Homo sapiens: one gene and its partners. The protein of the gene in region 1 purifies or fractionates together with the protein of each later gene. This does not show direct contact. Each region holds a gene or a part of one and is shown on either strand. Other genes may lie near its edges. The genes, in order: ARHGEF26, MCCC1 and ACSF2.

Region 1 (3,500 bases):
GGTTTGTCATTGATCAAAACAATATTATGCAATGCGTGACTGTATTATGTTTCCTCTTATGTTCGCATTATAGCTTTTGTGTATGCTTTTCCTGTAGCTCTGTAGCTTCTCAGCTTTCAGACCTTAGACTTTCCTCATTGACCAAATATCTGACTGCCAGACTAGATCACACCCTACTGACAGTCTGTTCTCACCTCTATATAAATCCTTCAGTTTGTAGGTATGTATTTGTGTAAGATCATTATGTTCTCAAACTTATAGTGACTTGCCATCACATTTTGAGTAAAAATCAAAGTCCTTTAATGGCTGAGGCAAGGCCCTACATGATCAGCCCTCTGGTCACCCACAACTCCCATCTTCTTCTTCTTTTTTTTATTTTGAGATGGGGTCCAGTCTGGAGTGTAGTGGCATGATCTCGGCTCACTGCAACTTCTGCTTCCCAGGTTCAAGCAGTTCTTCTGCCTCAGCCTCCCGAGTAGCTGGGACCACAGGGGTGCACCACCACACTCGGCTAATTTGTTGTATTTTTGATAGAGGCAGGATCTCACTATGTTGCCCAGGCTGGTCTCGAACTCCTGACCTCAAGTGATCTGCCCATGTCAGCCTCCCAAAGTGCTGAGATTACAAGTGTGAGCCACCATGCCCGCCGGCCTCAACTCCCATCTTCTGTACTTTCCCCCCATTTCCTTGTACTCCAGCCATGCAGTCCTCCTTGCTGCTCTTGGTACATACAGACATACCAAGTAGACTCATGCCCCAGGGCTTTGCACTTGCTGTGTCCCTGATGAGATGCTGTTTGGGCACTAGTTCTTCATCAGAGTCAACATCAAGGGCCTTTTCTTTGTAGTTTTGATACAGGTGGCTCACTTTCTCACCTGTTCTATGTCTTTACTTAATTGTCACTCCAGTGAGGCCTTCCTAAACTACCCTACTTAACATCTACATGCCCTCCTCCCAGCGCTTTCTACCCCCCTTCCCTGTTTCATGTTTCTTCATGACACTTATCAGCATCAAAATACTATCAAAGTTATTTGCTTATTTATTGCAGTTCTCTCATGCTTTAGTATCAGCTCCTGAATATTGAGATTTTTAGTGTCTATTATTGTATTTCACGTGCTAAGCTGTTGCCGGTTCCTAGTAGGTGTTTTCTAAGTAACAGTTGAATGAATAAATGCATGAGTGAATTTGACAGTTTTTTTAATTAAACTGTTAGCTCATGAGAGGTGGATGAGGGCATGAGAGCTCATGAGGCATCAGAGGTGTCTTTCTTTTGTTTTCCATTTTACTCTCAGCCCTTGGCACGTCATAGATACACAATAAATGTTTATTAAATAGATAAATGAATGGTGATGGACCTTAAATAAAAGATAGGATGTAATTTAACCTAAATTACAGTGATTTAACAGGCCTGACTGTCCTTCATGAGTAGTGGACAGAGACATGGAAACTGCTTCTGTTGGCATTCTCTGTATGGGCTGGTCCCCTTCCCCTGCAGTTGAGTTTGAGATAGAGCTATGTGAATGAGAAAATCACTTTTCTGTAATTATTCTTCAGGGACTAAATCTGTTTGTCTCTCTGTTTATAAAATTGGAGGCCAAACATTGGGTACATATGATGTTTATTTAGAACAAGTAACATAATGATTGAGAACAATTAGTGACACATAGGCCTTGTTTTCTTGCAGAAAATGCTGTCCTGTATCAAAACTACAAGGAAAAGGCCCTTGACATTGATTCTGATGAAGAGTCAGAGCCCAAAGAACAGAAGTCAGATGAAAAAATTGTGATTCACCATAAGCCATTGAGATCCACATGGAGCCAACTCTCTGCGGTGAGTGTTTATCTTCTTTTCTATCTGTGGTAGGAAAAAAACAAGTTTTGGAAATTATGTGTGGATTTGGCTTTTGTTCTTTTCTGCCAGTGATCCTGTAACTAAGGAGAAAGACTCTTTTTAGATTGTGAAATGTTTCTCGGAACTCTGCCCGCACTAATGAGAACATGAACTTTGACACTTCTGATCAGGAAAATTAGGTTTGATAAAATAAAGTGCTATGAGATTGATGTACTGTGACCTCTGGAAACTCTTTCTGCGAGATCTCTCTTTTTGTTAAATATAGCCTGCACTTTATCATAATTATGGCTATTTACATATATATGCGTGTGTGTTTATGTATGTATGCGTGTATATGTACATGTATGTATGTACCTGTATATGTATCTCTGCACAATAGAAAGCTAGTTACAATTCTTCCTTGGAAATTTTTTTTTTTTTTTTTGAGATGAGGTCTTGCTCTGTCGCCCAGGCTGGAGTTCAGTGGCGTGATCTCGGCTCACTGCAGTCTCCCAGGTTCATGTGATTCTCCTGCCTCAGCCTCCTGAGTAGCTAGGACTGTAGGCGTGTGCCACCATACCCAGCTAATTTTTGTATTTTTAGTAGAGATGAGATTTCACCGTATTGGCCAGGCTGGTCTTGAATTCCTGCCCTCTAGTGATCCGCCTGCCTCAGCCTCCCAAAGTGCTGGGATTACAGGCATGAGCCACCGCATCTAGCCCTTCCTTGGAAATTTAATTTGATATAGAAATGTTTATATATTCTTAAAGCTGATTAATGAATGATATTCTGTTCCATCTCTGTGCCTTTTTTGTATGCCTGTCTCTGACACTTAATTTTGTGTTGATGAGTAATTTCTCCTCTCTGCATCAGACACCTTTTGTTTTTTAACTGTATATTTTTTTCCTCCTGGCTTACAATGTCACAGTTTGATGCTTAGTTTACTTGATAAGAGTTTGGGCACAGCATTTGCGAATATCTGATGAATTAGCAAGTAGAAAGGAATTCCCATGGCTGGCTTGGTTCAGGGGAGCTTTGCATCAAAAACAAGCCAGTACACCTCCATGAGTCCTTAGGCAATATCAGAGCAGAGGTGACAGAGATGTTTAGAATCAGGAATCTTGTGTATTTAGGGAACCCACTGGTGTAAGAAAAGGAGTTGTTAATGTTGGTGCTGTATAGCCAGGGCCGTGGGAATATGTGTATGTAAACGGTGGGAGACAACTTCTGCTTCAAGCTCTACCTTCCCTCTTCTAACCTGTATTGGAATTCAAAATTCAATACACCAAGCGCTTTCTCCCTGTCTTCTTCCCACCTCCTAATTTTGTTCTCAGGAGAATCTGTTCATTTCCAGGGCCTCTGAGGTATAGCACCCTTATGATTATGCCAAAAATTAAAATATTCACAGTGTCAGGGGAAGTAGAATGAATATGTGATGCTGGTATATGTAGGTGATAGGGAGTGGTGGGAGCTGTGGTGAACAGGCCTTATATAAATTGAGCAGCTACTACTTAGCTCAAACCAGGTGAGTGCAGGGGCTCAGTGTGACCAGATGTTCTGATAATTAGAAAAGAGAATGTACAAATCCAGACTTTTATGAGTATTTTCTCAACTCAAATTTTAAAGAAATGTTGTGTGTCCAAGAAAGTATTCAGATTTGCCCTCTATGC
Region 2 (3,728 bases), about 29 Mb from region 1:
ACTGCACTCTAGCCTGGGTGACAGAGCAAGACTCTGTCTCAAAAAAAAAAAAAGTGGGCAAAGGACATGAACAGGCACTTCTCAAAAGAAGACATACATGTGACCAACAAACATGAAAAAAAGCTCAATATCACTGATCATTAGAGAAACGCAAATCAAAACCACAATGAGACACCATCTCACACCAGTCAGAATGGCTATTACTAAGAAGTCAAAAAAATAACAGATGTCAGGAGGTTGTGGAGAAAAGGGAACGCTTATACACTGTTGGTAGGAGTGTAAATTAGTTCAACCATTGTGGAAAGCAGCAGGGTGATTCCTCAAAGAGCTAAAAGCAAAACTGCCATTCAACCCAGCAATCCCATTACTGGTTGATACCCAGAGGAATATAAATTATTCTACCATAAAGACACATGTGCATGTATGTTCATTGCATCATTCACAATAGCAAAGTCATTGAATCAGCCTAAATGCCCATCAGTGACAGATTGGATGAAGAAAAGGTGGTACATATACACCACGGAATACTATGCAGCCATAATAAAGCATAAGATCACATCTTTTGCGGGAACATGGATGGAGCTGGAAGCTATTATCCTTAGCAAACTCCCACAGGAACAGAAAACCAAATACTGCATGTTCTCACTTAGAAGTGGGAGCTGAATGATAAGAACTTAAGAACACAAAGAAGGAAACAAAAGACACTGGGGTCTACCTGAGTGGGGAAGGTGGGAGGGAGAGGAGCAGAAAAGATAACTATTGAATACTGGGCTTAATACCTGGGTGACGAACTCTGTACAACAAACCCCTGTGACATGTATTCACCTGTGTAATCTTCACATGCACCCCAAACCTAAAATAAAAGTTAATAAAATAAAATTGAACTTTGGTTTAAAAGATATAAAACTCTAAACTGGCTGCAACATATGAGTATCCAGCATTTTATCTGTATCTGGCATTGCATTGTTTCCTGTCACTAGGATGTGGGTTTTTCTATTCGTATGAGTTTCCCAGATATGTGAAGCTTACCCCTTTAATTTTGAAATGTTCTTTGAGTGTAACTATTTTGAAACAGGATTGGCTGAACCTTTGTGTTTTTACATTGTTTTGGTCATAATTATAATACTCGCTCACATTTTAGAAGAACAAATCCCCTCAGGGCTACTGATGTTGGAGAGGGTGTGGCTTCATCACTCATTAAATCATCCAAGTCTTCTCTGCCTTTTGCCTCCTTCTGTTTCTTCCCTTTTTGCTGTCAGCGTGTTTACTTTTAGAAATCTTGCTGTCCTTCAGTTACTGAATTTCCTCTTCTGTGGGCTAAAATCCCAGTAAGTATGTTTGTTAAAATTCTGAGTACACTGGAAGTAACTAGGCTGAAGTCTGAGGGATGCCCTTTTCACTGAAAGTACACGTACAGTTGTCCCCTTTATCCACGGTTTTGCTTTGAGTGGTTTCAGTTACCTGCAGTCTACTATGGTGTGAAAATATTAAATGGAAAATTCCAGAAATCAACAATTGATAAGTTTCAAATTGCACGCCATTCTGAGTCACACAGTGAGATCTTGCACAGTCTGCTTTGTCCCTCCCAGGATGTGAATCGTCCCTTTGTCCAGTGTCTCCACGCTGTCTCCACTCCCCATCTGTTAGTCACTCAGGAGCCATCTAGGTTATCAAATTGACTGTCATGGTACCACCATGCTTGTGTTCAAGTCACCCTTATTTTATTTAAATCATGGCCCCAAAATGCAAGAGCAATGATGGTGGCAATTCACTTATGCTAAAGAGAAGCCATGAAATGCTTCTTTTAAGTGAAAAGGTGAAAATTCTCAAGGAAAGAAAAAAATATGTATGTTGAGGTTTCTTGGTTCTTGGTAAGGACCAAGTTTCTATCTGTGAAATTGTGAAGAAGGAAAAACAAATTCATGTCATTTTCCTGTTGCACCTCAAACTGCAAAACTTATGGCCACAGGGCATGGCAAGTACTTAGTTAAGATGGGAAAGGCATTACATTTGTGATTGGAAGACATGAACAGAAGCGTGGTCAAATTGGTATCAGTCCAGTTCTGTAGTATTCATAGTTTCAGGCATCCACTAGGGATCTTGGATAAGGGGACACTCCTGTAGACTTTAATACATGACTTTCATTTGCTTCTTAGCTTTTTTTCTGGAAAGATGACATTGATGACCTGAAGATAAGTGAGGTATTTATTGAGCTAGTGTTCTGTTTGGGGCTTTTGGATGCCATGATTTCAATTCTAGGCCAGTTTTACACAGAGACAGAATAGACAAATTCCCCTTACCACTCTGAAGCCCTTTACTTCTTGACATTCTACCCTAATTGCAATATTATTTTAAATTTAAGTATATAGAAACTTCTGTACCATATGATCCAGCAATTCCACTTTTGGTATACAGCTAGAAGAATTTAAAGCAGGGACTCAAAACAGATACTTGTATACCAATACTTGTTGTTCACAGCAGCAGTATTCACAATGTGTAGAAATAACACAATGTCCATCAAGAGATTAATGGATAAACAAAATGTGTACAAACTGGATATTATTCAACCTTAAAAACAAATGGAATTTTGATACATGTTACATGAATGAACCTTGAAAACATTATGCTAGGTGAAATAAGCCAAACTCAGACAAATTATTATACGCTTCCACTTACATGAGGTACTTTGGCTAGAGAAATTCATAAACAGAAAGTAAAATCCTGGTTACTAGGGACTAAGGAAAGGGAGGGAATGGAGAATTATGTTTGGAGATTAAAACATCCTGAGGATGGATGGTGATGACAGTTGCCCAACATTGTGAGTGTACTTAATGCCACTGAATTACATACTTGCAAGTAACTAAAATGGTCAGTGTTTTGCTATGTATATATTATCACAATAAAAAGAAATATAGATTCATCTGGTTTAGGTAAGCCTTCAGAGCTTTCATATGAATATTTCAGATATTTCTTTGGAAACAGAGTTTAATAGAGACCATACTATTACCAGTGTAGGGAGAGGCCTCCCAGAGGAAGACAGCTTCACCTGCATTAAGGTGTTGCCAGTTGAGCACTGATGAGTAAATTTTTTATTTTATTTCTCATTTCTAGGCTATCCATCCAGGATGCGGTTTTCTCTCAGAAAACATGGAATTTGCTGAACTTTGTAAGCAAGAAGGAATTATTTTTATAGGCCCTCCTCCATCTGCAATTAGAGACATGGGTATAAAGAGGTATGAGTTTATATCTTTTAAAATATAACTGTATGAAGGTCAGTTGAAATAGTTTGGGCCAGGCATGTGGCTATGCCTGTAATACCAGTGTTTTGGGAGACTGAGGCAGGAGGATAGCTTGAGGCCAGGAATTCAAGACCAGCCTGGGCAACTTAGTGAGACCTTGTCTCTCAAAATTCTTTTTTTTAAATCAGCCAGGCCTGGGCACAGTGGCTCACACCTGTAATCCCAGCACTTTGGGAGGCCAAGGTGGGAGGATCACTTGAGCCCAGAAGTTTAAGACCAGCCTGGGCAACACAGGGAGACCCTGTCTCTACAAAATTTTTTAAAAATTCCAGGCATGGTGGCACGTGCCTGTGGGTCCAGCATCTTGGGAGGCTGAGGTGGGAGGATTGCTTGAGCCCAGGAGATCAAGGCTGCAGTGAGCTGTGATCACACCATCATACTTCAGTCTGGGTGACAGAGTAAGACCCCATCTCAAAAAAAAAAAAAAAA
Region 3 (3,728 bases), on another chromosome or scaffold:
TAGTGGTCTCTAACACATTGTCAGCAGCCTACCCCCTGGCTTGGCTGGGTGTGCCATGCCCTTGGTTCCAGGGAGACTGATCTGGGACAGTCAAACCCATAGCTCCTCTCCCTACAGTTCCAGAGAGGTGGATCGCATGGTCTCCACGCCCATCGGAGGCCTCAGCTACGTTCAGGGGTGCACCAAAAAGCATCTTAACAGCAAGACTGTGGGCCAGTGCCTGGAGACCACAGCACAGAGGGTCCCAGAACGAGAGGCCTTGGTCGTCCTCCATGAAGACGTCAGGTTGACCTTTGCCCAACTCAAGGAGGAGGTGGGTCCTGACCTGGAAACCTCAAAGTGGGCAAGTACTAGCTCCCAAGCTGCCCTAGCTGGGCAGAACCAGGAGCGTGGGCACCTGGCTATGGGGCAATGTGCTAGGGCTGCCAGAGAACCCCGAGGGATGGCAGGAGAAGGAGACAGGACTGACGCACAAGGGGTCCAATGCCTCCTGTATCAGCAGCTCCTGGGGCACCTGTTAACTATGCAGGCCCCAGGGCAGACCCACTGAGGCTGGGAATCTGCCTGTCCCTTTGTCCCCAGTGACTGTGATGAGAACTCCGGGCTAAGGGCTGAGGGTGGGAGTCTTGGGCCCCTTCCTGCTTGCCCCCTTTCACCCCTTGCGCCCCATCTTTTACACTAGGTGGACAAAGCTGCTTCTGGCCTCCTGAGCATTGGCCTCTGCAAAGGTGACCGGCTGGGCATGTGGGGACCTAACTCCTATGCATGGGTGCTCATGCAGTTGGCCACCGCCCAGGCGGGCATCATTCTGGTGAGGAGGGGCTTGCTTGGCACAGCTTGGTGTGCATGGGGGAACATCACTGAAGGGGAGCCCCTCAGGCCCTCAGCCCCAGGATCAAACCAGTGCCTTGTTGGTTTCAAACCAGGTAGTGCTTTCTCCTGAGGCCCACCAAGGAGGTCTCTGGGAGTTAGGGGGCTGTAGAGTGCTGCCTCTATGCCTCCTGGGGGCGGAGGGGCAGCAGGAGGGACAGGGTCTGCCCAGAATACTGATATGCCCTCGCCGCTTCCACCAGGTGTCTGTGAACCCAGCCTACCAGGCTATGGAACTGGAGTATGTCCTCAAGAAGGTACAGCTCATTTGTCGGGGAGGGGCCCGGCTGGGGCCTGGCACAGGGGGCTGCACAGACTCTGCTTGTCAGAGTCTGACGGTGTGAGCTAGGGCATGCATAGGCGGGTGATACGCAGAGTGTCCTTCCTTAGGCCATGTGTGATTGGAAGGTGGCCCCAACTCCAAGGAGAGCGTGGTTGGTCAGACACAAACCTGGCGTGAGTGTGCAGGGACGGGGGCATGTGTGTGTCAGGGCAGAGGTGTGTGTGTGTGTGTGTGTGTGTGCGTGTGTCCATCCTCATATGTGATGCATATGTGTCTCAGGGTGTGGTGTGTGTGTCTCGGGGCTGGTACATGTGTGCATTTGTCTTGGAGTGTGGTGCCTGTGAGTGTGCTGGAGGTGTGTGTGTCAGAAGCGGGTGCATCTGTATGAGAGCAGCTGATTAGTGAGGACTCCCCCAGAGCTCTAGTCTGGGGCTCCCCGCTGACTGGAGGTGGGGGACTCCCCTTCCACAGGTGGGCTGCAAGGCCCTTGTGTTCCCCAAGCAATTCAAGACCCAGCAATACTACAACGTCCTGAAGCAGATCTGTCCAGAAGTGGAGAATGCCCAGCCAGGGGCCTTGAAGAGTCAGAGGTGGGTGTGTCCCAGGTTAGTGGGTGGTGCATCATTCAGCATCCCTGATTCCTTCACTTCCTACCCACCCTGCCCCCTCCCTCAGCCCCTGTCTCTCACCATCGTCCCCAACCCCAGGCTCCCAGATCTGACCACAGTCATCTCGGTGGATGCCCCTTTGCCGGGGACCCTGCTCCTGGATGAAGTGGTGGCGGCTGGCAGCACACGGCAGCATCTGGACCAGCTCCAATACAACCAGCAGTTCCTGTCCTGCCATGACCCCATCAACATCCAGTTCACCTCGGTAGGGCAGAGGTCTCCAGGCCCCAAGCCCAGATGGACACATGCCCCCTGTCCCTGTGACACTTCCGCGGGGATGGGGAGACAGCAGAGGAGAGCATGCCTTCTTTACTGAGACTGGCCTTCAGCTGTCCTCTCTGCCCTGGAAAATATCAGCACCTGGTGTCCTTGTCACATTTCCTCCCCTAGCCCCCCGCCCTCTCCACTCCAGCCCTCTTGTTCCCGGTGCAGTGGCAGATTCACTGAACCAACACAGGTTGGAACTGCTACAGGCTGCCCCTCATTTAGCTGATGAGGAATCAGAGACGCAGAAGAGAGAATTTGCCCAAGCCAGCTTGTGGGTGGCAGAGTTCTCTGGGCCATGTAAGTGGCATGAGAACGGAGACCTTATCTTCTGCATTGCTGGACCCTGACACCTGGTATCGTGGTAGACCTTTTGCAAATATACTGAACAGATGGATCTGGGGCAACAATCCCTGTCTCCTGATTCCCGGTCCCGTGCTCTTCAAGGCAGTGGCCCAGGGTGGGAAGGAGATGAGAAGGAGGCCAAGCCATGCCCTGTTTGCCTTGTCAGGGGACAACAGGCAGCCCCAAGGGGGCCACCCTCTCCCACTACAACATTGTCAACAACTCCAACATTTTAGGAGAGCGCCTGAAACTGCATGAGAAGGTGAGGCGGCACTAGGCCCAGGGCAAGGCTGCAGGAGGGGTGGCTCAGGCAGGGGTGGGGGGCTGGCTGGGCTCCCCTTGCCAGCTAGAGAGGAACTGGCGTCTGGCTCCAAGACAGACCCAGCCTCCTGTCTCCATCACCAGACACCAGAGCAGTTGCGGATGATCCTGCCCAACCCCCTGTACCATTGCCTGGGTTCCGTGGCAGGCACAATGATGTGTCTGATGTACGGTGCCACCCTCATCCTGGCCTCTCCCATCTTCAATGGCAAGAAGGCACTGGAGGCCATCAGCAGAGAGAGGTGGGCACTGGTGGACAGGCTACTTGTGGGCTGATAAAACCCTCTTCTTCCTCACTCCTGGGCCCTGACACCTTTCCAAGCTGCCTCCTCCCTCCAGCCAGGAGACTGAGGATGGGGACAGTGGAGGACCCCCAGGAGAGGACCAGTTCCTGCCTCAGGAGCTTCTCCTGCCTATTCCCTTTGCTGCAGTTTCATGGCGGGGTGGGTGAGAACAGGGAGTTCCCTTCCACTTCCAAGCCTAATTTCGAGACCTCCTCCTATACAGAGGCACCTTCCTGTATGGTACCCCCACGATGTTCGTGGACATTCTGAACCAGCCAGACTTCTCCAGTTATGACATCTCGACCATGTGTGGAGGTGGGGTGGGGCCAAGGGCAGCCAGGCTTGGGGAGGGGGCTGCTTCCCCCACAGGAATGGCCCGGGTGAGTTAGCTATGCTCCCAGTCTTTTATATAGGGGGCAAGAAGGACGCTGTAAAAATGTGGGTGGGAGGGAGGGAGATCCCCAGTGTCCCTGGACACCAGCCCAGGGCCAGCTGCCAGGTGTAGGAAAGGCTCGGGGTCAGAGGAGAAAAGGGAATGTTCCTCCCCTGAATGAGCTGTAGGTGAAAGGACTCCACTGGGCCTGGAGAATTGGGGAGCTGTGTCAGCCCTCTCTCTGATTCAGGTGTCATTGCTGGGTCCCCTGCACCTCCAGAGTTGATCCGAGCCATCATCAACAAGATAAATATGAAGGA

The links.
Region 2: the proteins of ARHGEF26 (region 1) and MCCC1 purify together in Homo sapiens (affinity purification with mass spectrometry; one large-scale study listed by BioGRID and IntAct). This does not show direct contact.
Region 3: the proteins of ARHGEF26 (region 1) and ACSF2 purify together in Homo sapiens (affinity purification with mass spectrometry; one large-scale study listed by BioGRID and IntAct). This does not show direct contact.

What each region holds. Positions count from the first base shown.
Region 1 is NC_000003.12:154,127,890-154,131,389, forward strand, and holds part of ARHGEF26 (rho guanine nucleotide exchange factor 26), read left to right. Parts: intron 1-1,684; coding exon 1,685-1,830; intron 1,831-3,500. UniProt on the Homo sapiens protein: Activates RhoG GTPase by promoting the exchange of GDP by GTP. Required for the formation of membrane ruffles during macropinocytosis. Required for the formation of cup-like structures during trans-endothelial migration of leukocytes.
Region 2 is NC_000003.12:183,071,871-183,075,598, reverse strand, and holds part of MCCC1 (methylcrotonoyl-CoA carboxylase subunit alpha, mitochondrial isoform 1 precursor), read left to right. Parts: intron 1-3,111; coding exon 3,112-3,233; intron 3,234-3,728.
Region 3 is NC_000017.11:50,460,560-50,464,287, forward strand, and holds part of ACSF2 (medium-chain acyl-CoA ligase ACSF2, mitochondrial isoform 2 precursor), read left to right. Parts: intron 1-117; coding exon 118-313; intron 314-682; coding exon 683-811; intron 812-1,073; coding exon 1,074-1,127; intron 1,128-1,624; coding exon 1,625-1,743; intron 1,744-1,860; coding exon 1,861-2,026; intron 2,027-2,596; coding exon 2,597-2,692; intron 2,693-2,835; coding exon 2,836-2,993; intron 2,994-3,258; coding exon 3,259-3,350; intron 3,351-3,658; coding exon 3,659-3,728. UniProt on the Homo sapiens protein: Acyl-CoA synthases catalyze the initial reaction in fatty acid metabolism, by forming a thioester with CoA. Has some preference toward medium-chain substrates. Plays a role in adipocyte differentiation.